Homo sapiens: one gene and its partners. The protein of the gene in region 2 purifies or fractionates together with the protein of the main gene of each other region. This does not show direct contact. Each region holds a gene or a part of one and is shown on either strand. Other genes may lie near its edges.

Region 1 (7,027 bases), on a different chromosome or scaffold from region 2:
GGCAAGAGTGACTGGCAGTAGTGCTATGTGGGTATGACTCCTTTGCCTCTTTTATGGAAATGGGAAGGCTCCTTCCTCTTCAGTTGTACCATTAAACAGCAAGCTGGCACCATTTTTTGAATAGTGATTTCTCATAGGAGTTTTGCAACAGTACGTTTAATTTATTTTGGTATTGTGAAGTAACTGGAGAACAGCAGGAAATACTGCCATGTCACTTCCATCTTTTTTCCAAGAGAGGAAATAAAATCTATGGTATTTAGGGCTTTAAACCAATACAAGGAAATTCAACAAAAGACTTCCTAGAACTTAAAAGCTACCTTCAAAAAAGCTTCTTAGGCACCTTAGGTACCATCAAATATTATACAAATTCTCTGCTTTGTTTTGAATAGGTGGTGGTTTTGTTTTGTTTTGTTTTGTTTTTCCTTCTTTAATTGGGAAGGAACTTTGGTTTCTAGGCTTAACTTTTAACAGATCTCACAGGCCGCAGTTTCTAGTAGTAGTCAGGCTACTGGTAGTATTAGTCTGTGTTGTCACTGCATAGTCTGAAATAACTAAATTGCCAGAAGTCCATTAACTTAACCAAATCAGCTTTCTACCACTTAACATTCTACTTTTACCTACACAAGTGGACTGTGTAATACTTAACATCCTTAAGAAACATATTTGTTTCTGACACACATCTTAGATGTTTTCTGAAATATACAAGGTTTAGTTGAAGAACCACAATAGCAGTTATTGGAAGTGTTCAGCATCGGCTCCCAAGATTTTAGCAGATGTGACGAAGAGAACACCACACTACAACACAATCTAATCTCAGCTTGCCTCTCCAGCACTGGTACCTTGGGCACTTGGCTTAATTTTGCTAGGTTTGTTTCCTTCAGTGTAAAACAAGAATGATTTCCAGGGTTTCTATCCAGCAAAAGTTTAACTGTGAGGAAGCTCTTTTACCTATTCTGTAAGGAAGTAGATTTATCAGAACTCTTAATGAATTGTGGTTGTGTTTTTGAGTCCAAGAGTCCAACAGTACTATAAATTTAAATATGGCTTTTTACCAGTCTGGTGAGTGTATTACATTGATTTTTAAGAGATAAACAGTACAAGGTAGATCTTTACTATTGTGTTTTAAAAGCCTTTGAGATTTTATTTTCTGGGATGTGAGCTATCTGAAATTTTTTCTCTTATTAACACTCAGAGGGCTATATGTATCTCTCATCTCTACAAGTTTATTTTCAAAATGACACATCCCAGATTGAAATGGGCACTTAGCGAATACTTGTGGACCACAAGACTTGTCTGAGAACATGTTCAAAGACAGTTTTCAAATAAAAATTTTTCTTAATCAGGTCCATATACAGACTTCACCCCTTGGACAACAGAAGAACAGAAGCTTTTGGAACAAGCTTTGAAAACATACCCAGTAAATACACCTGAAAGATGGGAAAAAATAGCAGAAGCGGTGCCTGGCAGGACAAAGAAGGACTGCATGAAACGATACAAGGTTGCAGACTTAAGCGTTTATAGATTGTTGTATTTTAAATTGTAGCTTGGGTGATATAGCTCATATTTTATGTCTATTAAGTGGTTAATAATATAGTGCTTATTTCAAAACCAGTAGTTATGGGGTCAATATTATGAGGAAGAAATGAGCAACCTTAGAAACTTTCTAGGCCCTGGCAGATAATGAAATCAGTATATTTAGTACTATCTATCTTAGTTGCTTGAATTCTTTACACCAAACACTAGATTAAAATGTCTGTTTTTAAATCGCAACTTCTTAAATCACACCTTTCTCCCTTCCTAGGAACTTGTCGAGATGGTAAAAGCAAAGAAAGCTGCTCAAGAACAAGTGCTGAATGCAAGTAGAGCCAAGAAATGACAATCTTTGTTGTGTGTGCATTTTTATAATAAAACTGAAAATACTGTAAACATTTTCATTCTTAAAATTATACTCATGGTAATAATTTGAAAGTATGCTGCTTCCAACATAATTTCTCAGAGAACAAAGACTGACCATTAATACAAAACAACCTTCAGAGGGGTAGTCTTTTTATCCTTTGAAAGTATGATACAGTATTTAATTCAAATTTCCAAATGTATATACATGTTCATTTTTATTTTTCTCTAGCTCTGTTTTATAAATACATGTGTTCAAACAATCTTGATTAGGAGCATTTTAATCACGAAGCCAACACATGTTACTGCGTATCTGTTTAAAATCTGGTAGTTGCTTAATGGGACCTAAGGATTAAAAAGAAGAGTTAATTAAAAGTACTTGGCCAACTTTTTGCATAGAAGAAAAGAAGCCAGGCTTACCAACAGCAGCAATAGCTGGACTCCTATTATAAATGTATTTGGTACATACTTCTCGAATTGTCTCAGCATTCACAGCCTGAAATATGGAAGACACTGTCATTCAGCTGTTTGTAGTAAAAACAAAGTCTATACCTGGAACTTTTTAAAACTAAAGCAAGATGAAAGATACATATTCTCAGCTTTTGTAACAAGGATCTTTTTACACATGACCCAATAGTAACTCAGGACTACTTACATCAATTCTTGCTTCAAGCTCAGGGATGGGAATCCTTCTATTATAGCATAACATTTGCCTACCAATATCTTCACAAATTGGAGTTGAACCTGTTTAAAGAGAAGGAAAAATTAACTATTGGAATACAGATCAACCATATGAAAACAGAACCTATATCTTTATTTTTACCATCAAGCTGCAACAACATGTTTGTTTTCAGAAGATTTCTGGCTCGTGCAACCTCACTTTCTGTGACACTTGTACAGAGTCGCATCCTAAAAAACGTGGAAAAACAGTAGTAGTTGGAAAATGTTGTATTTCATGAGTTAATGACCTAAGAATGATGATGCCATCTTCTACACAAAACATACAGGTGATTACAATTTAATTCCAATGCTAAGCAAAAGCTAAAATGATTATTTTCCCCAGTATTAATTTCTCAAAAATGATACATAAACATGCCTAATTACACATTAGCAGACAAAGGCTTTATACAAATGGGCTGATCACATTTTCAGAAATGCTATAAGCATCTTGAGACTTCATGAGTCCTCATCTGTTGGAGTCTGATATGCTATGGGTTAAGTCAGTGGGTCATTCATTGGTTTCTGAAAACAATGAGTAGAGTCTAACTTAAATCTAATTTTTAACAATAATTACATCCTAGTTGACTAGATTTAGAAAGATGTAAACCAATTAAGAATAGTGGAGGAAAGGAACCAGAGCTAAATGTTTTCCAAGAAGCTGCGAGCCTTTCTGCCCATCTATCGACTCAATATACTTTGTTTTCTTTTAGCAGTGGCAACTTCAGATTTACTTTCCCTTCAACCAGATTACTTTCAGAGATATTTTCCAAACAACTTCTAGTTGGCTTTTAAACTTTTAGGATCATCTTTCTGAATTAACCTGCTTCTGAAAGATTAAAACTTTCAGCCAGGTGTGGTGGCTCACGCCTGTAATCCCAGCACTTTGGGAGGCTGAGAAGGGTGGATCTCCTGAGGTCAGGAGTTCAGGACTAGCCTGGTCAACATGGTGAAACCCCATCTCTACTAAAAAATACAAAAAATTAGCCAGGCATCGTGGGCATGGTGGTGCGCCTGTAATCCCAGCTATTCGGGAGGCTGAGGTGGGAGAATGGCTTGAACCTGGGAGGCGGAGGCTGCAGTGAGCCGAGATGGCACAACTACACTCCAGCCTGGGCAACAGAGCAAGACCTCATCTCAAAAAAAAAAAAAAAAAAAAATTCTATAGTATAAATCAGCTTCACATCTTGAGACTTAGGAAAAACCAACTGCAACCTTTGAAAACATGGCAACTACTGTTTATCTAGGTCTCTTAATTAAAAGGTAAAATTACCATAAATCACCATAAAGTATAAATAAAAAACTAGTTTAAAACGAATTAAAGGCAAAATTTAAATTACTTAAAGCTATTTTTCTCACCATTCTTTTTGAACAACATGTAGCATGTCTGCAACAGTGGATGATTCACAAACCATATACAGTCCCCATAATCCTGTATCTGTGTAGGAAGTGTTGAAAGACTGAAAGCTATGGCAAAGATTGCCATGACAAGTGAGCTGGGCCAGCTTGCTAGATAAATTCTGCAAGGAAAAAAAAATTCCAAGAGAATTTTAATTATACATGTCCAAAATACAGAAAGAAAAATGGAGTGTGTGGAAAATAGTGAATATCCTTAGAGGCTGTTTCCTAGTTTTATTCAACATCTCAGTAGTAGAGTTAAAATTCAGTATGACTAAGAATTGTGTTTATTATCTCACTTACCCAGTGCACCCCCTGGAGAAATTCATGTTATAAAAGCAATGAGTCCTTATAATTAATGTAGTAGCTATACCTACTTCTAAAACTAGATGGCTATTATCAACCCAATTTCTAGGACTCTTGGCTACATACGCTTAAAGATTCAAAGTTATATTGCATATGAAGCTTAAGATTATTTAGATGAAATGTATTTTGGAGAAATCTATGAGTAAAGACAAATCTATACAATGTGTTTTGAAATAATTCCAACTTACAAAAAAGTTGCAAAAACAGTACAGAGAATTTCATTTATCTAGATTCCCTGTTATTTTACCATGTTTGCTTTATTCTCTTTATACAAGTTTTTTCAACTGAGTTTTAGATGTGATGCTTCTTGCCCCAAATACTTTAGTATGTACTTGTGAAAAACAAGGAAATTAATGTTCTTACATCACCTTGGTATAGTTCCTCAGTATCTGTGGAGAATTGGTTCCCAGATCCCTGTGGATACCAAAATCCACAGATGCTAGAGCCCTCATGTAATATGGTATATGTAATATTTGCATATAAGCACATTCTCCTGTATACTTTAAATCATCTCTAGATAAATACCCAATCCATGTAAATGCTATGTAAATAGTTGTTATACTATATTGTTTAGGAAGTGACCAAAAAAAAAGTCCATACATGTTTAGTACAGATGCAACCATCCATTTGTTCCCCAAAATTTTCCACCTATGGTTGGTTGAATCCACGGATATGGAACCCACAGATATAGAGGGCCTACTGACTATTAAAATTAGGATATTAACATTGACATAGTACTTCTAGCTAATTCTGTCCTTATTCAAATTTTGCCACTAATAAACTTTGTGGCAAAGAAAAAAAGAAACTTTTTCTGGCCCACATGCAATCCAGGATCAGTTTATATTTTTAAGTCAGAATTCACAGTACAAGACTCTATTCTGCCACTTTAAAAAAGGATTCTTACAAAGAACTTATATTTAAGAAAACATGATAATCTTCCATCTGTTATGGAAAATTTCTTTTAAAATCACTTACCATTCCTCCCCCAAAAGAGCGATCCCAGTTGCCAATCAGCGTGTTTGCAACCATGAGACAGATTGTATCTGGATGTGCCCAACCAACAGCTTCAACAGCTATTGCAAGGTGCGCCAAAGGCATCTTGTCATCCCTCACACGAATCTAGTTAAGATAAAGCAGGAGGACCTCTAGTTAAGATTAACATTATATAACATGCTTATTAACAAGGAAAAAATCACCAGTCCCATTAACTGCAAAGTTAAAATGCACACCAGGACTCTATTTTGATTTTTTAACTATCAGGCCTCATTACATTGTTGAGTTTAATCTAGAAGAATTAAGACTAAATTAGGGAAAAATTACTTTTCCCAAAGCATTTTACTACAGACAGGCACCACATGGTTTACCTGGTCAAAAGGGTTGCATCATTTCACTGGTAGAAATCAATCCTTTGTGTTTGTCAATCTGAATTTGTCTTTTTCTTTCTTTTTTTTTGAGACAGAGTCTCACTCTGTCGCCCAGCCTGGAGTGCAGTGGCACCATCTCGGCTCACCGCAACCTCGGCCTCCCATGTTCAAGCAATTTTGCCTCAGCCTCCCGAGTAGCTGGGACTACAGGCATGCACCACCACGCCCAGCTAATTTTTGTATTTTTAGTAGAGACGGAGTTTCACCATGTTGGTGAGGCTGGTCTCAAACTCCTAACCTCAAGTGACACACTCGCCTCAGCCTCTCCAAGTGCTGGGATTACAGGCGTAAGCCACCGCACCCGGCCTCAATCTGAACTTTTCTATTGAAATGTCATATTGACGTTACAGGTTTATTTTTGTACTGCCAATGCTACAGTTCTAGGCAGCTGCCAATATCAGGGCATTTTCCAGATACTACTTTGAGCATCATCCTCAACATGGCAAACTAAGCAGCTAGTGGGGCTTAAAGCTAGTTGATAACTAGTAGATCCCCTGCAAGTTCTGGCTCTAACAGTTACTACCCCCTCCCAAAACATACTGTGGGCAAAACTGAGCCAAGAGTAAACCTGAAGTGAAAGTCAAAATACGGGGTTTAAAAGATTACTTCCAGATATTACAATATGTAAATTGGCATAGTGCCAAAGAAAAAGCACAAAAAGACCAAATTATAAACTGCTCTTAAAAACTTTGCTTCCTTTCAGACTAGAATGGAGAAATTTAAAAACAAAACAAAAAAAACCTTGCTTCCTTAGGAAGAAAAATAGGTGGTTAAAGAATACGGAAGAGGAAGGAATGTAAGCAAATGAGTACATCCTCTTCCCTTTTCCTATTATTCCATTCTTTTCCTACTGGAAATATGCACATTTTGTTTACTTATGTGTAAATACAACACAAGGAATCCAAAAGGCTAAATACTAGCTGGAAGGCTTGCCCTACCTCACTTCCTGTGAATTTGCAGGGAGGCAGAGCTGGTATTTCTCCTTTGTGTGTGCATAAAGAGTCACCGAAATGAAACTTTGCTAAGTCAAGCAATTCATCATGGGAAACACCTAAATTGAAAGAAAATATTTTCACATGTATCTAGCAGCAATATAGTTTACAATAAACCCTAGGTGGTATAATGTGATGTACATTACACATGAACTATCTACACTCACTAAAAGCCATTATTTAAGAGTAAGCTCACATAGCACACCTATTTCCTTGGTGTTGCAAAGCTTGAGGTTG
Region 2 (6,978 bases):
TTAGACTGTCATTCATCACAGGTGGGTCAGTAGCCTCATCCCTGGGCTGTCAAAGGCTTGTGCACTTTCTGCCACCACAGCCCCCATCAGTCTCCTTAGTCAGCGCCCACCCACAAAGGCCACACTTTGGTCAATTGTGAGTGATGAAGCCAGGACTCTGGCCAGTCTCACTGCAATATTTATGTGAAAGTAGATGCTGCATTCTGCTTGTATGTGGTTTCTCCTGGGCACATGGCACAGGACCTGGCCTCCTTATCATCTCGCCCGGGCTCCCATGCCTTCCGAGCTGGCTACCACGCCTCACTCCTCAAGAGCGCCCAGGAGTGAGCTCTGCTCTCCAGCATCACCCTGTTGATGGACGTGAGCGGAACAGGGTGATGCCCTGGACACTGGGACTAAAATGACCTTCTTCTAGCACCCTCACAGGATGCTTGAAATCCTGAAAATGTAACCTTAAAAAGCAAAGTGTTTCTTCTCAAAAGAAGACATGTATGCAGCCAAGAGACACATGAAAAAATGCTCATCATCCCTGGCCATCAGAGGAATGCAAATCAAAACCACAATGAGATACCATCTCCCACCAGTTAGAATGGCGATCATTAAAAAGTCAGGAAACAGCAGGTGCTGGAGAGGATGTGAGGAAATAGGAACACTTTTACACTGTTGGTGGGACTGTAAACTAGTTCAACCATTGTGGAAGTCGGTGTGGCGATTCCTCAGGGATCTAGAACTAGAAATGCCATTTGACCCAGCCATCCCATTACTGGGTATATACCCAAAGGACTATAAATCATGCTGCTATAAAGACACATGCACACGTATGTTACTGCAGCACTTTCACAATTGCAAAGACTTGGAACCAACCCAAATGTCCATCAATGATAGACTGGATTAAGAAAAATGTGACACATATACACCATGGACTACTATGCAGCCATGAAAAAGGATGAGCTCATGTCCTTTGCAGCAACATGGATGAAGCTGGAAACCACCATTCTGAGCAAACTATCACAAGGACAAAAAACCAAACACCGCATGTTCTCACTCATAGGTGTGAATTGAACAATGAGAACACATGGACATAGGGTGGGTAACATCACACACCGGGGCCTGTTGTGGGGTAGGGGGAGGGGAGACAGATAGCATTAGGAGAAATACCTAATGTAAATGATGAGCTAATGGGTGCAGCAAACCAACACAGCACATGTATAAATATGTAACAAACCTGTACGTTGTGCACATGTACCCTAGAACTTCAAGTATAATAAAAAAATAAATAAAATAAATAAAAAATAAAAATAAAATTTAGAAAAAAAGTTTTCCAGGTTCAGAGCAGAAAACATCAGTCCTGAAAATCAGGATTCCAGGGTTTAGATTCCTTTCACTCCCAGGATCTACAGACACCATCGGACCTCACATGGTGCCCGGCAGCATTCTGAGATTTTTTACTTTATTATCTTGTAAACCCCCAAAATTTGAGACAGGTCTCATTTAATTTAAAAAGTTTATTTTGCCAAGGTTGAGGATGTACCTCTGACATAGCCTCAGGAAATCCTAACAACATGTGCTCCAGGTGGTCAAGGCACAGCTTGCTTTTATACATTTTAGGGAGACATGAGACATCAATCAATGTATAAGAAGTACAATAGTTCTGTCCAGAAAGGCAGAGACAGCTCAAAGCAAGGCCCCCACCACTGGGGGCTTCCAGGTCACAGGTATGTGAGAGACAGACAGTTGCATTCTTTTTATTGTATTTTTGAGACGGAGTGCGGTTTTGTCACCCAGGTTGAAGTGCAGTGGTGCGATCTCGGCTCACTACAACCAATGTGTCCTGGTTTCAAGCAATTCTCCGGCCTCCGCCTTTTGAGTAGGTGGGATTACAGGTGTGTGCCACCACACCCAGCTAATTTTTGTATTTTTAGTAAGGACGGGGCTTCACCATGTTGGCCAGGCTGGTCTCGAACTCCTAACCTCAGGCGATCTGCCCGCCTCGGCCTCCCAGAGTGTTAGGATTACAGACGTGAGCCACTGCGCCCTGACCGGTTGCATTCTTTTGAATTTATTATAAGTCTTTCCAAAAAAGTTAATCGAAATACGCATGTATCTCTGGGAGCAAAAAGATGACTTGAATAGAAAAAGAGGCAGATTCGCAATAAGCAGTTCCCAGCTTGAAGGTGCCTGAGATATTTTTCTTTCACAATCTTATTGAACCCACACCTGGTGTAATAACCTGGAAGCCTCCCCAGGAGGCGGTCAGCACAGAGGCTAGGGAATGAGGCTTTCCAGGCCATTACACCAGTTTTCCATTTACCAGCAGGGTGACCTTGGGCAATTTGTTTCAATTCTCTGAACCCCAGTGTTTTTCTTCTCTAACATGAGGATTATATTGCCTGGTCAAAGAATCATAGTGTGGCTTCAATAAGACAGAAGGAAAGGGACAGAAACAGATCCGATAGAATACTGTAGCTAGCTCATTGAGGCAGTTCACAGACGGTGTTTGGGAGGAACTTGGAAGAGGCTGAGCCATGTCTTACCCAGCACCAGCAAGGAAAGCTGTGTTTCGGTTCTTTCTTTTCTCTTTCCACAATCTCACTGCTCCTAGGTCAGGCATGGCTCAGCCTCTTCCAAGTTTTCTCCCAAACACCCTTTGTGAACTGCCTCAATGAGCTAGCTACAGGATCCCACTGCATCTTTCTGTCTCCTTCTTTCTGTCTCTCTGAATCTATTTCTCTCTATCTCTCTCTCTCTCTCTATTTCCATCTCTCTCTGTCTGTTTCTATCTCTCTGTTTCTCTGTGTCTCTCTACTGTCTCTCTGCATGTCTCTGTCTCTTCCTCTGTCTCTGTTTTTGTTTGTCCATCTTTCTGGATCTCTCTCTGTCTTTCTCTGGCAGGGTTGAAGTGGGAGTATACGGCAGGTTCATGTTTGGGTGCAGAATGGCATTCTGCCAGCGGTAGAGTGGCTGAGGGTCACTCCACTCTGGGTGTCTCATGCCATGTGGCTGCAGTATGGGGTTCTCATTGGACCACCGTGACAGTGTAGGGTGGATGTCATTCCTGGAAACTGAGCCTCAAGCTGGGTTCTCCAGCAATGCCACCACCCCCCACCAACCCTGATATCCTCCGAATAAACTCTTCCCTTCCTTGGTCAGCGAGAGCCAGCGTCTGCTGCTTGCAAATAAGCCACTGAGACATCAGGAAAGCTGCTCACAGAATTACAATGAAAATCAGTAATAAATAAAATGTTTCTTAAATCTTTAGAATCAAGGAAAACCTGAGGGATACTTGGAGAGTCGCTAACAGCACCCCAATCTGGCAGTTGTAGCTCTGCAGGGTGGGCCCAGGCTGGCCCAGACCCTCACCCTCCAAGGGCCACACTGGGGGCTCACTTTCTGAGGAGTGCCCTTTGGAAACGTCCCAGGAACACGTCTAGTGGGAAAAGAGAAAAGTTGGTCCATCGAGGAGAGTGTTCTGCATAAGGGGAGAGATGAGAAGGTAGCCTTGGCCAGAGGAAGAAACTTCATTACAACCAGCTCTCCTTCTGCAAGGGAAGAGGGTGAAGTTTGAGTTTGTCTTGCAGGAAGACAATCAAACTAAAGAGGCCAACACCAGCTTAGAGCCGAGCGGCCCCCTGCTCAGAGCTTCCCTGTGGCTCTCCTCCATGTGATCCAGAAGGAGGGACTCCAGTGTGAACTGCCTGTTCCAGAAACCCCATCAGAACTGCCTAACCTAGAAAACCAAACAGGAGGAGCTGGCACCAGGGCTCCAGGCTGAAAGCTAAATCCAGCGGCAGCCAGATGGAGACAATGTGCCATGTGACTGCTGACTGCTCAGGGCAAATGACACCAGGGGTTAGCGATTAGAAGTTCACCCTTGACTGTGGCACCTCCCTTCAGTTCCGTCGACGAGGTTGTGCAATCCACCAGTCTTATAAATACAGTGACGCTCCAGCCTCTGGAAGCCTCTGTCAGCTCAGCCTCCAAAGGAGCCAGCGTCTCCCCAGTTCCTGAAATCCTGGGTGTTGCCTGCCAGTCGCCATGAGAACTTCCTACCTTCTGCTGTTTACTCTCTGCTTACTTTTGTCTGAGATGGCCTCAGGTAAGCTCTGGTACCTGCAAGAGTTTCCCATCCCCAGGGCTGGGGACAATGGGGCTGATGTGAGTCTCGGATGGCTGCCTCCGTGTCCCAAGGGACGAGGAACAAGCAGCAGGAAAGCATCCCGTGGTTGAGTGGCCTGCAGTTGGCAGAAGGCAGCAGGCAAGCCCTGCCAAGCCTTCAGGGTCTGTGAGCCGCCAAGGAGTGAGCCTGGCAGGGTCATGGCGCTTGTCACAGGCAGCTGCCTGCATCCTTGTCCTGGACATGTAGACAGTATCCTATGTGGATGAGATTGCTGCTTCCCCTGCAAGACGACTCCTCACACTGAGAGGCCAGCTTCCTATGCAGAGAGAGGGGCCGGCCCCATCCTCAGCCCACGTCACTGGGTGCAGCCTCCTGGGGTGCCCTGGTACAGGTGAGGTGCTGCCGCCCCACCCATCAGGCCAGCTCAGCCGGTGCCTTGGACTCACCTCCTGTGCAGGCAGGCGGTCCTCTCCCTCTCCTGAGAAATGCATCCACATTCTCCAGGTTAGCAGTCTCCCCAGTCAATAGGAGGGGGCTTCCTGTGAGCCAGGTGTATGTCAGCTTCTCTGGGCCAAAGCAGCCATGACCCTGACATGATGGTGGGACGTGCAGGAGGAATCGGGAACATGTTTTATCCCAGCCCTATCCTTGTTCACACGAGTCACATGGTGCTAAGCCTTGGTTTATTCATCTGCAGAATGAGGGGCTGGGAAGGATGATCCTGAAAGCAAGCACTCCAGTTCAGAAAGTCTCTGTAAGATCCTATTGTAAGTTTCTCTAGGCCATCACTGTATCCAGCAGATAGGCTTAATTTATTCCAATTATGCCTCAGTTTTTCCATCTGAAAGCTGAGTACAAAAGCATTCTAAATGCAGAACTTTTCATGCTGCCAGTTGCTACAATGGATTTTGTTTTTTTGTTTTTTTTTTTGGTTTTTGGTTTTTGGTTTTTGTTTTTGCTTTGCTTTTTTTTTGAGACAGGGTCTCACTCTGTCACCCAGGCTAAAGTGCAGTGGTGTGATCTCGCCTCACTGCAGCCTCTGCCTCCTGAGCTCAGGCCATCCTCCCACCTCAGCCTCCCAAGAAACTGTGACTACAGGCATGCACCACCACACCTGGCTAATTTTTTTATTTTTATTTTTTCGTAGAGATAAGGTCTTACTGTGTTGACCAGGCTGGTCTCAAACTCCTGGGCACAAGCAACCCTCCTAGTTCAGACTCCCAAAGTTCTGGGATTATAGGCATGAGCCACTCCACTCAGCCTACCGTGTTTTTTTGTTTTGTTTTGTTTTGTTTTTTTGAGATGGAGTCTTGCTCTGTCACCCAGGCTGGAGTGCAATGGCACAATCTCAGCTCACTGCAACCTCCACCTCCTGGGTTCAAGCAATTCTCCTGCCTCAGCCTCCTGAGTTAGCTGGGATTACAGGTGCATGCCACCAAGCCTGGCTAATTTTTGTATTTTTTAGTACAGACGGGGTTTCACCATGCTGGTCATGCTGGTCTTTAACTCCTGACCTCATGGTCCGCCTGCCTCCGCCTCCCAAAGTGCTGGGATTACAGCCATGAGCCACCACGCCCAGCCCATGTTTTTTTAAAGGAATAGAAAATATTACTTCATGCCATGTAGTAAAAGTAGATGCTATTTAATTACACCCATATTTCAGTTTGGGGTGTGTGCATATGTTTTTACTGAGTAGCAGTGAGAAATTTCTTTCTGATGGTGGTTCAGTCCAAACTCAAAAGGGTTTGAAAGGCACTTTGTTAACATAAAGAATTTTTGTTTTCAGTCTATTATATCTAAATTGAATTATGAGAAGCTATTCTCGAGCCTTCCCAGTCACAACTCCCTCCTACCCCCAAGAATAATCACTCACTTGACTTTTATGGTGGTAACTTTTCATATTCTTTACACTTTTGCCACACTAATTAATATTCAGGTTGAATAGTACAGCTTGGTTTGTGCACACATTTCTATTGGCCAGTAGGTGCCCTTATGCCTCTATTTCTACATGCTGAAAAGTTGCATCACCGGATCATAGGCTATGCATATATTCAATTGTATTGGACAATGCCAAACTGTTTTCCAAGATTATTTACACCAACTTGCACTCCCACAAGCAGTGAATAAGAGTTCCTCTTGCTCTGTATCCTTGCCAACATTTGATAACATCAATTATTTTTAAATTTTAACCACCTGGTGAGTGTAGCAATAGCTCACTGGAGTTTTAATCTGCATTTCCCTGATAAATAATAAGTTGGGCCCTTTTATACATAGTTACAGGCAACTGGGTTATTTTTTGTAAAATACCTGTTTGTCTTTTGTCCATGTTTTCTTTTGGATTATCTGTCTTTTCTTATTGGTTTGTAGTTCTTTATGTATTTTCTATGCAAGCCTTTTGTCAATTATATACATCACAAATATCTTCTCTTGCTTTGTGTTTTGATTTTTCACTCTCTTAATGGAAACTTTCCTAGAAAAGAGGCTTTTATCATGATTTCAATGTAGTCGAATGTGTCATGTCTTTTTCCGTAAGGTTACTGCACTTTCTATCTTGTTTAAGAAGACTTTCTTTACATCAAAGACATGAAGATAGTCCCCAATATTGTCTTCTAAAAGCTTATCCTTTTTCTTTTTACATTTAGACTTACAATCCATCTGGCAATGGGGTGTGTGTGTGTGTGTGTGTGTGTGTGTGTGTGTGTGTGTGTGTGGCTTCGGTATGAAGTAACGGTCAAGTTACTTTTTTTCCCCAATATGAATATCTGATTGTCCAGAACCAACTTTTTTTTTTTTTGAGACTGAGTCTCGCTCTGTCACCCAGGCTGTAGTGCAGTGGCACAATCTTGGCTAACCGCAACCCC
Region 3 (7,027 bases), on a different chromosome or scaffold from region 2:
GCGCCTGCCTCCACACCCAGCTATTTTTTTGTATCTTTAGTAGAGACGAGGTTTCATCATGTTGGCCAGGCTGGTCTCGAACTCCTGACCTTGTGATCCACCCACCTCAGCCTCCCAAAGTGCTGGAATTACAGGTGTGAGCCACCACACTGACTGGTTTTGTTGATTTGAACTATAAAGTTAGTATTTAAAATCATGTACTGTGTAAAGTGGAGTGAGTTTTAGAATTATACAAGATAAGAATCTTGCCCTAGAGGGAGCCTGTAGTCTAGTTGGAGAGACAAGATCTTGACCCATAACTCTCAGCCTAGCTAATTCTGTAACCTTTAGAAATGTTTAGTGTCTTTGGCTCTCCATTTTCTTGCTTGAAAAATGGAGATAATAACAATTTATCTTAGGATTCTTGTGAGAATTAAATGAGATAATGTTTCTGAAGGGTTTAGAGCCCAGCCTTCATTTATATTGCCTTATTTTTTTCTGTTCTTATTAGTCTAGAGATGTATGATTGATTCACGTAGTAGCAGTATCTCACAGTAGCAGTAATTCTCAGAAAGCATATGTTACGTGTCCTGAGAGTAGTGTGGAATGTGTCGTGAGGATCAGAGGTGGGAAAGAGTGGTCTGGGGCTGTTAACCTTGGAGGAAGGTTTTGTGGAAGACTGTAGACCTGAACTGAGCTTTGAAGGTTGATCATACTTTCAGATATGCATGGGAAAGACAGAGACTGAAAGTTCTTAGGGAATATAGTCAGCAAAGATAAGAATATAGAAGCTCGTGTTGTGTTGTAGTTAATCGATAAACATATGGACAGATGTAGGAGCAAAGATGTATTCTCATATGCCACTAGAGAAGATGGTTATAGTGAATGAAAACTGTGAAATGTCCATAGCTGAGGGCAGTAAAAACTAAATATTTATTCCCTTATTCATTTATAATTATAAATATTTATTTGTGAAATACTTATGGATGTGAACTATTATCATTAGGCAATATCTCAAGGTATACAGTATTCCCTTATGGTAAGGTTTGTTGTTATTGGATTTGAATCTATATTTAATTTAATTTATTTATTTTTAAAGTTTTTTGTAGAGATAGGCTCTCCCTGTGTTGCCCAGGCTGGTCTCAAACTCCTGGGCTCAAGTGATCCTCGTGCTTTGGCCTCCCAAAGTTCTGGGATTGCAGGTGTGAGCCACCTTGCCTGGCCTAAATCTATATTTTAAATAATCTTTTAGTAATTTCTTATATTTTGGCTGACTTGTAAGGTCTGATTTGGTTGTCATAATTTCTACCGTAGATGTTGCTAAGAATAAAAGAAATGTCATCTCTGCCATTTTATGATTGGCTTTTGCTAATATTGGTTTGAGGGAATATTGCCAATTTTTATTTAATCAAAACTGAATCTGTAAATCCACTTAACTGGGCACATAAAAGCTGCTTCCGTATCTTTATATACTGAAATTAATAAATGAGGACTGTTGTCAACCCTTCCTCATTGCAAATCTTCTACATTTCCCTCAGAGTACTTTTCTACCTCTCACACCAGGCAGTGATGTCAGTGTCAGTTTGCATATTGAATATTAGTAAAGCTTAATTTCTTTTTTTTGGAGACTGAATCCTAGAGCAGTGTTCCTCAGAGTGTGGTTTTTGGGTCACCTATGTCAGAATTACTTTGAGGTGCTGGTTAAAATAAAAATTAGGCTGGGTGCAGTGGCTCATGCCTGTAATCCCAGCACTTTGGGAGGCCGAGACGGGCAGATCACATGAAGTCAGGAGTTTGAGGCCAGCCTGGCCAACATGGCAAAACCCCATCTCTACTAAAATACAAAAACAATTAGCTGGGCTTGGTGGCAGGCGCCTGTAATCCCAGCTACTTGGGAGGCTAAGGCAGGAGAATCATTTGAACCTGGGAGGCGGAGGTTGTGGTGAGCTGAGATCACACCACTGCACTCCAGCCTGGGCAACAGAGTGAGACTCCATCTCAAAAATAAAATAAAAATTTCTGGGCCCTTCTCATACCCTATCTAGGTGACTGAAGTTGACACTTGGTAGCTAGTATAGAGCTTGGTGACATTGTGGGGTTTAGTGTATATATAGCATAAAAGAGAGTCCTAGGAACTCTCGTTATAGAAAATAAATCTTTTTTCTTTTTTAAGGTAAGAGATTTGAGAGTGTTTATATCTGGAAGGGAAAGTATCTTCTCTTAAAACCTCTTCCTATTAGAGAACAATCACTGGTTTGAAAATTAGATAGTGAATTTGAGTTTTTTATTTCAAAATTTGTTTTGCAATTTTTTATTAGGTGGAAATTAAAGGTGGAGCACATGATTATTACAATGTTCTTCCCAATAAGAGCCTATGGAAAGCCTATATGGAAAATGGAAGAAAGCTAGGAATAGAGTTCATTTCAGAAGATACAATGTTGAATGGCCCTTCAGGTAATTAAGTGTTTTTTTATATATTGAGCTATTTGAGGAAGAGAAATACCATCTTTGGTTAAATTGGTTGTATTTAATGGTTTGGGAGGTCGGGAGGTACTACTGACGTTTTTAATATTTTCACAAACTTTATGGTTAGGGGAAAGAAACTAATGGACTCTTAAGTGAGTGTAGAATGTCAAACGAGCAGACTTGATTTTAGAAATAGTCAACCTACATTTTTGTCTGTATTCTAAATATTTTCTAGTGTTTAAGTTTCGTTAGTTTTAATTTTTAAGTAAGTTGCTAAGGTGGGATATAGAATTTTAATTCATTCTCAGTCATCACAATAAGCAGGTTACTAAGTACTTAGTTATCTGGGGCATTTTCAGTTTCTGAGGAGCAACAGACAGCTAGAATTGAAATAAGCATATTTGGGGTTATGTTAGTTTTTTTTTCCTTTTAAAAGCATATTATTACTAATACATTTGCAAGTTAGAGATGTATCATCTGTTTTAAAAATAGATGTTGTTGAAGTAGGCCCAAAAGGACTTGGTGGTGAAAATGGGGTGTCGGTGTCATTCATTAAGATAAGGAGTTCAAGAGAAAGAGCAGGTTAGGGTAAGAGGGGGTTGTTATAAATTATTAGTATGTTAAACTTGAGGTGCTTATAGTATTTCTAAGTGGAGCTGTTCAGTACCTGTTAAATCTAGAACCCAAAAAGATGTCTAGTTTGGAGATTTAGGAGTTGTCCATATATGAAAGGTATATAGAAGACATAGATGTCGATGAGGTTGCCCAAATACATAGAGGAAGAAGATTCCCAGAGATCAGACATTGGCAGTCAACGAAGTGGTCAGAGAGAAAGCCAGACAATCAGGAGAGAGGAGAAGTCATGGAAGCCAAGGGAGAAGAAAACTTACAGAAGAGAAGGAGGCATAAATCATGTCAAGTGCTGTAGAGACTGAATAAGATGAATATGGTCTAGTGTCCACTGGACTCTAGTAATTAGAAATTCATGAATTGTCTGGAAGAAAATAGTATAAGACCAGTGGTACCAGATGCTGGGTCTCACTTCTCTACCCAGGGCATTGACTGCTGAGATAGTGGAAGTAGCAAATGAAGACTATTCTTTTTCAAGAGAGTTAGCTTTCAAGGAAAATAGAAAGAGTGGATACAAGCTTGAGGGAAATACGGAAAAGAAAATAGTTTTTAAGGGAAGATACTTGAGAAGTAGATGTAATGTTTAGGAAGGAGGTCAGGGAGTTCAGAGACTTTCCCTCTAGGAAGTAGCACACAGTGAGCATTGAGCTGGTAGGGCTGAGGGATTGAGAGAGAATTGCCACTGAGAGGAGTTGTCCAGGGACATCAGAGTTTCATGTTTTCTTTTGTTCTGGACAGCAAGAAAGCTCAGCTCAGCATGGTTCTGTTCTTTTACCCTAGCAGGTTTCTGCTGTCTAGCTGAAGAAGGGAAGACACATGGCCTGCTCTACCCCGGGTTTGGGTTTTATATAATGGACAAAACAGTAGGATAAAGTGGCTGTGATTTTGGTATGATTTGTGGGCTCTAGGGTCTAGTTCCACAAGTAAGATCTTAAAATATGCAACAGGTTTTTTTTTGTCCATCCTTTTTTGTTTTGTTTTGTTTTTACACTCAGACTCTTTAGACTCTTTAAACACTGGAGAGGCTTTTTCCATCCTGTTCACTGATGTCCCATTACTGTGCATCCTCAGTGTGTGGAGCCGTTTCTGGCACAGTTAAGTGCTTAGTGAATATTTTCTGAAGCAGTACTTCTATAGAGGCTACTATGCCTCAAAGTCTGGCCTCAGTCTGCATTTACCACATAACTAGCAGCTGTGAGACTATCGGCATGTTATTTAATACCCATAAGCCTTGGTTTCTTCATGTTTAAAATGGAAACTGTTCTAAATATTAATGAGAATACATACAAAGCACTTAGGATTGTGTTTGGAACGTAGTATTCCAGATAAATGTTAGCTACTCTTTGTCACATATTCCTTTATTCTCTTACCAATCACTGTGTAGTCTCACTTTGCCTGCATGGTGTTTGACATGTAATAAACATTCAGTAAATATCCATTGAGTGAACATAAGGCTTTGTTTTTACTGTGATTTATTCAACAAGTGCCTGTGTGTCAATCCTGTGAGAAGCTAGATGCACAGTCATTTCAAATACTATTTCTTGCCTCATACAGCCTCATAATTTAGTTTCTGACATAAGCATGAACCAAATCATCCAATACATGGAAAATTAAAAAGTACTGTAAAGGAGAGTAATACATCTCTGTGAGAGCTTATGCTAGAGGAATTTCACTTTATGGGAAGGTGAAGTAAGTAAGGCTTTGCTGAGGAAATGATGCTTAAGATGGAATTTGAAGGTTAAGTAAGAGTTACAGAGATGATGCAGGGATAGCATGTGCAAGGGTCCTGTGACAGGGAGAGCATGGTGAGTGTCTAGAGCGGCTAGGGCATCGAGAGTAGTGGGAACATGGTATGAGATCAGGTTGGAAAGGTGAATGAAGATTGAAAAAAAAAAGACGGCAAATAGAGTAGATGCTGCTAGACCAATTAGGAAACTTCTAGTTCAGGCAAGAGATAATGATAGCATAGGCTGAGGACAGGTGTTGGTGATGGTGATGCAAAGAGCGTTAGGATTCTGAGATATTTGGCAGGTACTGTTGATAGGTGGAGTGGAGGTAGAAGAGAAAGATCATGAGTTTGACTTTAGATATGTTAAGTTTGATCTACCTTGAAGACATCCAAGAGAAGATACCAGGCTGGCAACTGGATGTATGAGCATGGAACTTAGCAGAGACTGGGAAGAGATTTGAGTTGGTGGTGATTTGAAGCAATACATACGGACAAAATCTTGAGAAAGAATATGCAGTAAGAAGAGAAAGGGGCCTGGAATGGAGTCTCCCGTAACTATTATTTCATCGTCAGGTAGAGGGGGCTCTATCCCCAAGAGAGACAGAAGAAGGGGCCATCAGAGAGGCAGAAGGGAAGCCATGCAAGTGCTGTGTCACAGAAGAGAAGAAAGGGAGTAGGTGGCAGTGTGGAGTGCTGGCCAAGAGGGCCAGTAAAAGCCGTGAGACAAGGTGAGGGCAGGTTTGCAGTGACCTTCATGAGAGATGTGACTGATACAGGGGAGTGGGTGGCAGACTCAGTGGAAGGTGAGCCCATGAAAGCATGAGCATACGGACAACTCTCCAAGAAGCTCACTTCTCTGCGTCTCTTCTAACAGGGACTGTGACTTCATAACTCCAGAATACTTAACCACATATACTTAAATAGACTTTTCTTAACTTTGTGTGTTCCAAGGATCTACGGATTTTGGAAATGTTAGTTTTGTGGTTCCTGGAATTCATCCATATTTTCACATTGGATCTAATGCCTTGAATCATACTGAACAGTACACTGAAGCTGCTGGTAAGTGTTGTTGGATGTGACTGTTTTGGCACACACACTCTTCTTCTGGTAGTAGCTGCCTTTCTGTTTAACCTACTATTTCACTACATAACATCACCTCAGTAAATACTGCACTGTGGTGGGCAGTTGGAGAGCCAGTTGAGATACGGGTAGCTAACCTGTGAAATTAAATACAGCTTAAATAAGTAAGGAGGTATTTTATTTTCTCTACCTTTTAGGGTCACAGGAAGCTCAGTTCTACACTCTGCGGACGGCCAAAGCTCTGGCAATGACGGCACTGGATGTTATTTTTAAACCAGAGTTACTGGAAGGAATCAGAGAGGACTTTAAACTGAAACTTCAAGAAGAACAGTTTGTAAATGCAGTAGAATAAAAGACTTAGGGGCCACTTATAAATCAAGAAGACGTGATGATTTTTTTCTTTTAATCTCTTTTAATGAAGGCATGCTTGTTTTTTAATCTTAAAGGAGTAAAATTCTTTTTACCTGATAAGTGAGGACAGGGTGTGGAGAAAACATATTAATTACCTCATATCTAAAGTGAAAATTTTTGCAAATCCGTACTTGATAGGATTATGATATTACAGGAGCTGGTATGTGATGCCATTCTTTCTTTTTTTTTACCCCGCAACCACTCACCTTCACAGTAGTGATACCATTTCTTAACCTGGAGGATACATGGCATCATTTTTATAAAATATGTTAGTAAACCTTTTTGTAAGCCTTAAATGTTATGTGTATTTTTAAAAGCTTAAGAGATTTCAAACCTTATATTCAGAATTGACACCCATGAGAGTGTTTTGTGGTATAGGGTGGTAAACTTGTTCTCTAATCGTATATTAATTCCTCTACCAGATTGTATATTTGAAGCCAGTGTCTTTCCTTTTTTTGTTTTAAGATAGAGCCTCGCTCTGTTGCCCAGGCTGAAGTGTAGTGGCACAATCTCGGCTCACTGCAACCTCTGCCTCCCAGGTTCAAGTGATTCTCCTGCCTCAGCCTACCAAGTAGCTGGGATTACAGGTGTGTGGCACCATGCCCAGCTAATTTTTGTATTTTTAGTAGAGACGGCATTTCACCATGTTGGCCAGGCTGGTCTCGAACTCCTGACCTCAGGTGATGCACCTGCCTCGGCCTCCTAAAGTGCTGGGATTACAGGCATGAGCCA
Region 4 (7,027 bases), on a different chromosome or scaffold from region 2:
CAAGAGACATATCAAGACAGTACCTGGTAAATTCCATGTAAATTAGCTAATCATTATACATTCCATGAGTCTCAGTAAGGAGGGGTCATCGGTTATAGTGAGAGGAAGAGGTGGCATTTCAGCTAGGCACTTATAACGTGGGTTGTAAGTGGATAGAATTTTGGATTCAGGAAAGAACAGAAATTGAAGTTACAGATTCCATAAAGCACAAAGTTTGTACAGGGTAGAGTAACCCCAGCAGCCTGGCTGTACTCTTAAGAGCAAATGTGTAACACAGAAATTGCAATGGGTCAGGTTGAAACATTTCCATTTTCATCCATAATTTTAGCAGTATAATGACATAGCTCAAAAGGAAAATAGGATATTCTACTTTTATATATTCAGATGAAAATATATAGTTCAAGGTATCAAATAATGACCTTATACCATTAATTTTTGGATTGTAATCTCAGCTACTGGATTGAGTGGGAAGTCAACAATTGTAGTGCTGTTTGACTTTTTGTTTTGGTTTGTTGGAATGTTTCCTCATAGAAAATCAAGCTGTATACTTTAATAATGCAGGACATATTTTAAAAAGTGGTAGTTGTAGTGAGGGGTTTTAATCCTGGCTCTACCACCTTATTTAAAATTTATTGTGAAAGATCTGCTCTACAAATATTTATTATGAAGGCTCTGTTGTAGGCTCTGGGATACAGTAGCGAGCAAAACAGACTAAGTACATGCCCTCATGAAGCTTATATTAAGAGCTATGTGACCTTTGAAAAATTACTCAAAGGGGTGTGTGTGTGTGTGTTTATGGTACAAACAGGCTTTATTAGTTGCAATGGAAAGTGGCAGAGGGGAGGATATGATAGCTCCTGCTCCTGGGGCAGGGTCCTCAGACTGAGTTTCCACCCTCCAAAAGCTAAAAATTTTTGACCCACAATCTGATCTGTAAATTTGGATCAGTATTAGTCATACTATTTGTAGAGAATATATAAATATATATACATATTTATAGAAATACTTACATTTATACATATAAATTGTTTATAAACATTTAAGAAACAGAGTCCATTAAATAATAGCTGATCAAAAATCTATCTTTGTCATCAAATGTTGTTTACTATATTGTATCATACATTTACTACACATGGCTTAATTTTCAAATTTCAGATACATATTTTGTTTTCAATCTACAGAACAATGTGGTAAAGAAGAAAGAGGGGAAGAATCTACAGTAATTACTAGTCCTGGTTTCAACAAGTAGATTTATTATCTACCATTTACTAGCTTTGTGATCCTAGACTAACATTTGTGCATCAGTTTCCAACTATAAAATCAGGACAAAATGATGTGATTCATCTACCTATTAGGCTGTCACAAAGAATAGAAGATAATTTCAAATTGTAAATTGGTAAGAAGTATATAAATAAAAGTTAGTTTAGTTCCATCATATAAAATGCTCTGTGTCTGAAAATTACAAACACTTGGTATTGGGAGATAAGTAGAGAGAAGAAGAGCACTAGCAGAAGTCATTTCCAGAATGGATCAAAATTACTAAGGAATTAATACACCTCACACAAAATGAACCGTTCTTCTCTTTCCCACTACAAGGCCAAAACTTACTATCTAGAAGTATGTTTGAAGAGTGTCAGCACATCTCTGCTATTTTGCAAAATTCCAGAAGATTTTAAGAGAAATGATGTTTACTAAGAAAAAACATTTCATAACTAAGACCATCGATACAAAGTTGTATTATGTGTTTGGGCCTATTTTTGTCTTTTGGTGCTTTTGTTGGGAACTTGAATTGATGAGTGAAATGGGACAAAGAGGCAAAAAGACTTAGAAAAGAGGGAAAAATGACAGGAGTCTAAAAGAGAGAAAATAATTAAAAAGAAAACAAAAGGAAAGAGAGCAGGTCTTAACAATGAAGCAACATAAAAAGAATGTTGTTTCCTTGGTATAAGAAAAAATAGATGAGAGGAAAAACAAAGCAGATGTGAAAAACAGAATAAAGAAAATGCATGCATAAAGAGAACAAAAGAAAAAAAGCAAAGCAATGGTGACAAGATAAAGACAAAATAGGAAGAAATAAACTTACGGGACAGATGTCTGATATCTGAGATAGATGCTTAATCTGTACATGTCACAGGCAAAAAAAAATTGTTTAAGAAGAAATAAACCTAATATACAATATCATTTTGTTTGCATTTTACATAAACAAGTAGGTATTCCTTATAATTTTATATTTCAAAAGCCTTATATAATTCATTTCTGGAATCTGGATATCAGAGGTAATCTTTTAAAAATTTTAACCTGTCATAAGATGGTGGTTTACAGACTGGATCATATAGAAGGAAGCTTAGTACAACTGATAGAGAAGATGGTAACATCATGACCCCGATGTAATCATATGAAAGAAAGGGGGTGATATAACCGCATTGGAACAAACAAGCTACTTATTGCTTCTAAATATAATAAGCGTTCTTGCTTTTCAAATAATATATTAAATAGTGAGATGCTTTCTAAAAATTTAAATATTATAATCTGCTTGATTCACTATATGAGCTGCTTTGAGAATTCCTTGTCAGGATACATTTTTGGGGTCTTGGGAATATATATGCTGTTTTCACCACTGCTTAACTGTCATAGCTTACTCAATAGACTGACCTATAAATAAAATATTTTGAATGTTTAAAGCACAATTCCAAAAAGTAGAGTGATTATGCCATGAACTAGAATAATACAGAAAATAAAAACTTAGAAAGCAATATATTTCCCCTAAAAGGTAGTATGAAACATTTTATTAATGATCTTCTAAAGTAAATGTAAAAATAGTTCAAGTTGAATAATTTGAAATGTTACTACTATCCTATTGTATAATTTATAAAACGTTATTTTCTCTGTGTTTAAATGTTCTGAATTGCTCACTTTTGAGGACTATTTCAATATACTATTTTTCTTAACCCGTAGCATTTTCGACATGCTTTACTATTAAACTTCTAGCATCCATAATAAGGGCTTTGAAAATTGACAAATGTCTCATATATATAATTTATAGTATGCATGTCAACATTCTGAATATGTCCAAGTGTAAACAAAATTGTTTGTGCCCCCTACAGAATTAGAAATCCTTGGGCAACACTGCTCTAATGATCCCATACCGTTAGTACTACAAAGTGTAAAAGTTCGCTGGGTAGGACAAGAGAAAAGGACAGAGTTCCCTCATTACACTATCCCTACACTATTTTGGCTTAAGTATTTATTAAGATATTAATTACTCTTCCTCCCTCTATCTGCCTTTAGACATTAGGCTGAGACACTGTAGATAGTTGCTCATCGTAAAACAATGCATTATCCAGTAAACCTTACCCCCCAAGATGAATGTTTTGTATGGAGCATTATTAATTCAGCAGGTGATATGTCTTAGAATTGTGAGGCTACATATACTCTCTCTTATGGACAACATAACGGCATGTTATGCTGATGCTATGTTTCCTTAAAGAAACAGCGTGTTTGGAAACTGAATTGGCAAGTTTTCTGCCTTCTGCATCCATCACAATAAAATTATTTTAGAAAATTTTTCTTGAGGTAGTATATGACACAAAAGGAAACAGAATTTGCATTTGTGACTTCTATAAAATGTCACACTGAAATAAGAATGATGCGTTTTGTAATTCTGAATTTAAAAACCCATTTAATCCAAGTAGACGACTATGGGAAATAAATGATGACAAATAAAAAAATTAATATTCTTGAAGAAAAACAAAACAATCTACATATAATAAAATATATACAAGGTAAAGAAAATAGTAAAGGAAAGTAGTGATCTCACTCACTCTGATATACAATTGCATCATTTCTTTTTCTCTTTGGGGGTTACGATACTTCTCATAGAAATCACGTCGCTTCTTTGTTTCTTTAGAAACTTTATCTTTTCTTTCCCGTTTTTCTGCTGGTTCATCTGAACTATCAGATGATGACTGTACGTGTATCTTCGGCTTTTCTACTTCAATATAGTTTTCATTGGGATTTAGTACTATTACTCCATATCCTTCCTGTTTTGAAATGAAAGAAGGTAGCATAATTTAAATCTTATAATCCATTTCAATTTTCAAAAAAGTTCTTAAAATTTCAGTCTAAGCAATTTTTATATAGTTGCATATTCATTAAAATACTCCTTTAGGCAAGATAATGATTTTATTTTTTTCAAAAGAAAGTCATTTAAAATTGTTTGCCTTTATTGTGTATATAAATAAGCTTTTATTATTTATAAGAACAAAAAATATAATTGCAACATAAAGATTATAAAGCTTAAATTAAAAAACTAATTCAGATATCTCAGAACCCAAAAATGACTGAAATAAATTAGCAAATAATTTATTTTCAAGTAAACTTTCAAATTATATTAATATTTATACTATCTGTTTTGAGAAAACAACCTCTGAAATCAAAGTTTACAATTCAAACTACATTTTTTTGTATATTTTTCTTTACAATGGCCCTTTCAAGAGCATTTTTTATTTGTCTGAACAATTAAAAAGAATAAGCAGTTAAAAAAGAATAAATCTGATTTAACATTACAAAACCATCCATACCTACATTATTATAAAGACATAACATCTACTTGTGTACCTTGAATTTTATTCACTTTGTTTCTCACAGGAGGCCAGAAAAATCATGTAGCAAAATAAGCCACTGTCTTACTATAATGTATGGAAGCAAGTCTTTAATCTTAAAATTTCTTTCATTTTTCAACCTACCATAAAAATTCTCTTTATTAAAAACTATAATCAGGAAATAAGCAAGGTTCCAAAGTTAAAAAATACAGCTTGTTGAGCTATTAAGGCTTTTTTTTTTTTAAATTTGTAAAACATGTTTTCCTGTCTCATTTCTTTCTAGCCTGGCAAACATTTCTGTGGTTATAATTAAGAAAACGTTTGATATTTATATTATGTCTAATGGAATAAGCTAACCATGAGAAAATATAGAGAGGGATAAACAATAACCATTGACAAGCATGGGTAACACAAATTTTTGAAGCTATTATATATCTTGTCTTTTCTATTCAGTTATGTGTTGTGAGGTTCCAATTATGTCCTTGTAAAATACTATAAGGTCATATTTAAAAGATGTATGATATTATAATAAAAACATAAGAGCTACAGAAAATAGCTCACAAAATCTATTTATTAGAAAATCTATTTAATAGAAAATAAAACTTATAAAATCTCATCCTTACTTAAAATAGGTAGTATATATAGTTTTTCAAGACAGTAACTGTAGAATCTTCTACTTGAAGTTTAAATTTTAAATTTTTTGCCAAACCAACCATAAGATGATTTTAAAAAATTGACAGCAGTAATAGTAAACCAGTAATAGCACAGACTCAATTATCTTATTTTAAAATATGCTGCATTACTGCACATGGTTGGTTTTTTTAAACAGTTGATTTCACAAACTACTTACAAACTTCTTTGGAATTGTTTTCTATTTTTTCCTCCATCAGATGATATTATTGTCTAAAACGATTATTTAGTTTGGAAATTTTCAAGATCACTGAAGTTCTGATTTTAATGATAGGACTATTAATTAAGATACAGTCATCTTACATATATGGAAACTATATAATAATATATAGCAAACTGATTTACAAACCACCACCCATTCTTCAACAGATGTTCAAATAAAGCTTTTAGAATAATGCTTCTTTCACAAAAAGCTTATAAAACACTTTACACATTCTGTAATTTAAACTTTCTACATCAAAGCAAAAGAGAATTTTTTTTAAAGTTTCTTAGCTCTAAGTCAAAAGTTTTACCAACAAAAGATATTTTATTTGGTCCTGCTTTATTCTAATCTGTATAGCTATTCAAAAGTCTTGTAATTCATTGTGATCACTGTCAGGTAGACAGATTGTCACTTGGTGATTTTCTACAGTTGGACACACTTGACTAGTTATTAAAATCACATTTGAAGGAAGTTCCTACCCCTCTTCCTTGTGCCTCTTACAACTTTTCACGCCCTTCTCAAATTTCAGCTATAACTTCTCCTCCCACCAAAAGTAAGTTAAAGAACACTGTTGCACTCTGCTAAACAGGGTGAAATAGAGGCATTCAGTACACTGTCTCTGGTGTAAGGAACATAGTCAAAAAAGGTCACCATAGGCCAAAAAGAAAATTGCCTCCCTACTAGATTCTGTACCGTGAGTAAGTGGTCTCCTGTCATGTTTCTTCCTTGCCTTCTCTGAGTGAATTGAACTTTAAACACACATACACACATACACATACACATACACACACACACACACACACACACACACACACACACACACACCACCCTCTCATACTCAGGAGTTAAAATTAGCAAGACCAAAATAGAATCTTAAAATTAGTAGAGATGAAAATAGTGATATACTACATTTTAATGATAATATGAAAAATTTCAAATTCAAAAACTTCACTCAAGGTAAAAGAGTGGGACTTTAATAAGCTGAAATAACATGGCATCATCTTTGTATAATGAATAAATCTCAAATAAAGGTAAACTCTTTGAACAAAATTTACAGTCACCAGAATTGTAAGACTATTATCTTATTACTTAATCAAAAAAATAATATTTTCATATCTGGCTTATTTGAGCAGAACTTTAAACTTCAATTTTTAGAAATCATAGATTGAAAAATTATCGTGCCTACTTAATTTGAAATAAGACTCTGAAATTTGATATGTTCCATGTAAATAAGTATTTTAAAAAAGGCATTTATATATCATCAAAGAAGCAGTATTTGTCTAAGTAACTGAAAATTACATGACTCATCTGTTCAATATCATAAAGGCACAATGTCAATGTTTCCCTTAGGCATCAACAGATGAGAAATGATTCTATTTTTAAATCACCACTATATAAATCAATTGAAGATTTGTTATCATTTAGATTTCAACAATGGATGCTTCTATTTAAACACCCAAACTATTTAGAAAATATTTTATCCTTTAGATATTTCAGATTGCCAATTTAATTAATGTGACAACAATCAAGAAAT

The links.
Region 1: the proteins of DEFB1 (region 2) and PMPCB purify together in Homo sapiens (affinity purification with mass spectrometry; 2 studies listed by BioGRID and IntAct, with this or other methods). This does not show direct contact.
Region 3: the proteins of DEFB1 (region 2) and PM20D2 purify together in Homo sapiens (affinity purification with mass spectrometry; 2 studies listed by BioGRID and IntAct, with this or other methods). This does not show direct contact.
Region 4: the proteins of DEFB1 (region 2) and ARB2A purify together in Homo sapiens (affinity purification with mass spectrometry; 2 studies listed by BioGRID and IntAct, with this or other methods). This does not show direct contact.

The regions. Positions count from the first base shown.
Region 1 is NC_000007.14:103,307,418-103,314,444, reverse strand, and holds part of PMPCB (mitochondrial-processing peptidase subunit beta isoform 1 precursor), read right to left. Parts: intron 6,850-7,027; coding exon 6,737-6,849; intron 5,494-6,736; coding exon 5,350-5,493; intron 4,131-5,349; coding exon 3,970-4,130; intron 2,803-3,969; coding exon 2,717-2,802; intron 2,638-2,716; coding exon 2,549-2,637; intron 2,390-2,548; coding exon 2,314-2,389; coding exon of another isoform or gene 2,246-2,313; exon of another isoform or gene 2,239-2,245; coding exon 2,174-2,238; 3' UTR 1,877-2,173; coding exon of another isoform or gene 1,802-1,876; 3' UTR 1,499-1,801; coding exon of another isoform or gene 1,344-1,498; 3' UTR 1-1,343. Other genes in the region: DNAJC2 (dnaJ homolog subfamily C member 2), read left to right, coding at 1,344-1,498, 1,802-1,876. UniProt on the Homo sapiens protein: Catalytic subunit of the essential mitochondrial processing protease (MPP), which cleaves the mitochondrial sequence off newly imported precursors proteins. Preferentially, cleaves after an arginine at position P2.
Region 2 is NC_000008.11:6,874,915-6,881,892, reverse strand, and holds the start of DEFB1 (beta-defensin 1 preproprotein), read left to right. Parts: upstream 1-3,956; 5' UTR 3,957-4,035; coding exon 4,036-4,096; intron 4,097-6,978. UniProt on the Homo sapiens protein: Has bactericidal activity. May act as a ligand for C-C chemokine receptor CCR6. Positively regulates the sperm motility and bactericidal activity in a CCR6-dependent manner.
Region 3 is NC_000006.12:89,156,028-89,163,054, forward strand, and holds part of PM20D2 (xaa-Arg dipeptidase), read left to right. Parts: intron 1-2,297; coding exon 2,298-2,433; intron 2,434-5,377; coding exon of another isoform or gene 5,378-5,481; exon of another isoform or gene 5,482-5,743; intron 5,744-5,755; coding exon 5,756-5,863; intron 5,864-6,081; coding exon 6,082-6,236; 3' UTR 6,237-7,027. UniProt on the Homo sapiens protein: Catalyzes the peptide bond hydrolysis in dipeptides having basic amino acids lysine, ornithine or arginine at C-terminus. Postulated to function in a metabolite repair mechanism by eliminating alternate dipeptide by-products formed during carnosine synthesis.
Region 4 is NC_000005.10:93,877,649-93,884,675, forward strand, and holds part of ARB2A (cotranscriptional regulator ARB2A isoform 1 precursor), read right to left. Parts: intron 4,041-7,027; coding exon 3,822-4,040; intron 1-3,821. UniProt on the Homo sapiens protein: Plays a role in the regulation of alternative splicing, by interacting with AGO2 and CHD7. Seems to be required for stabilizing protein-protein interactions at the chromatin-spliceosome interface. May have hydrolase activity.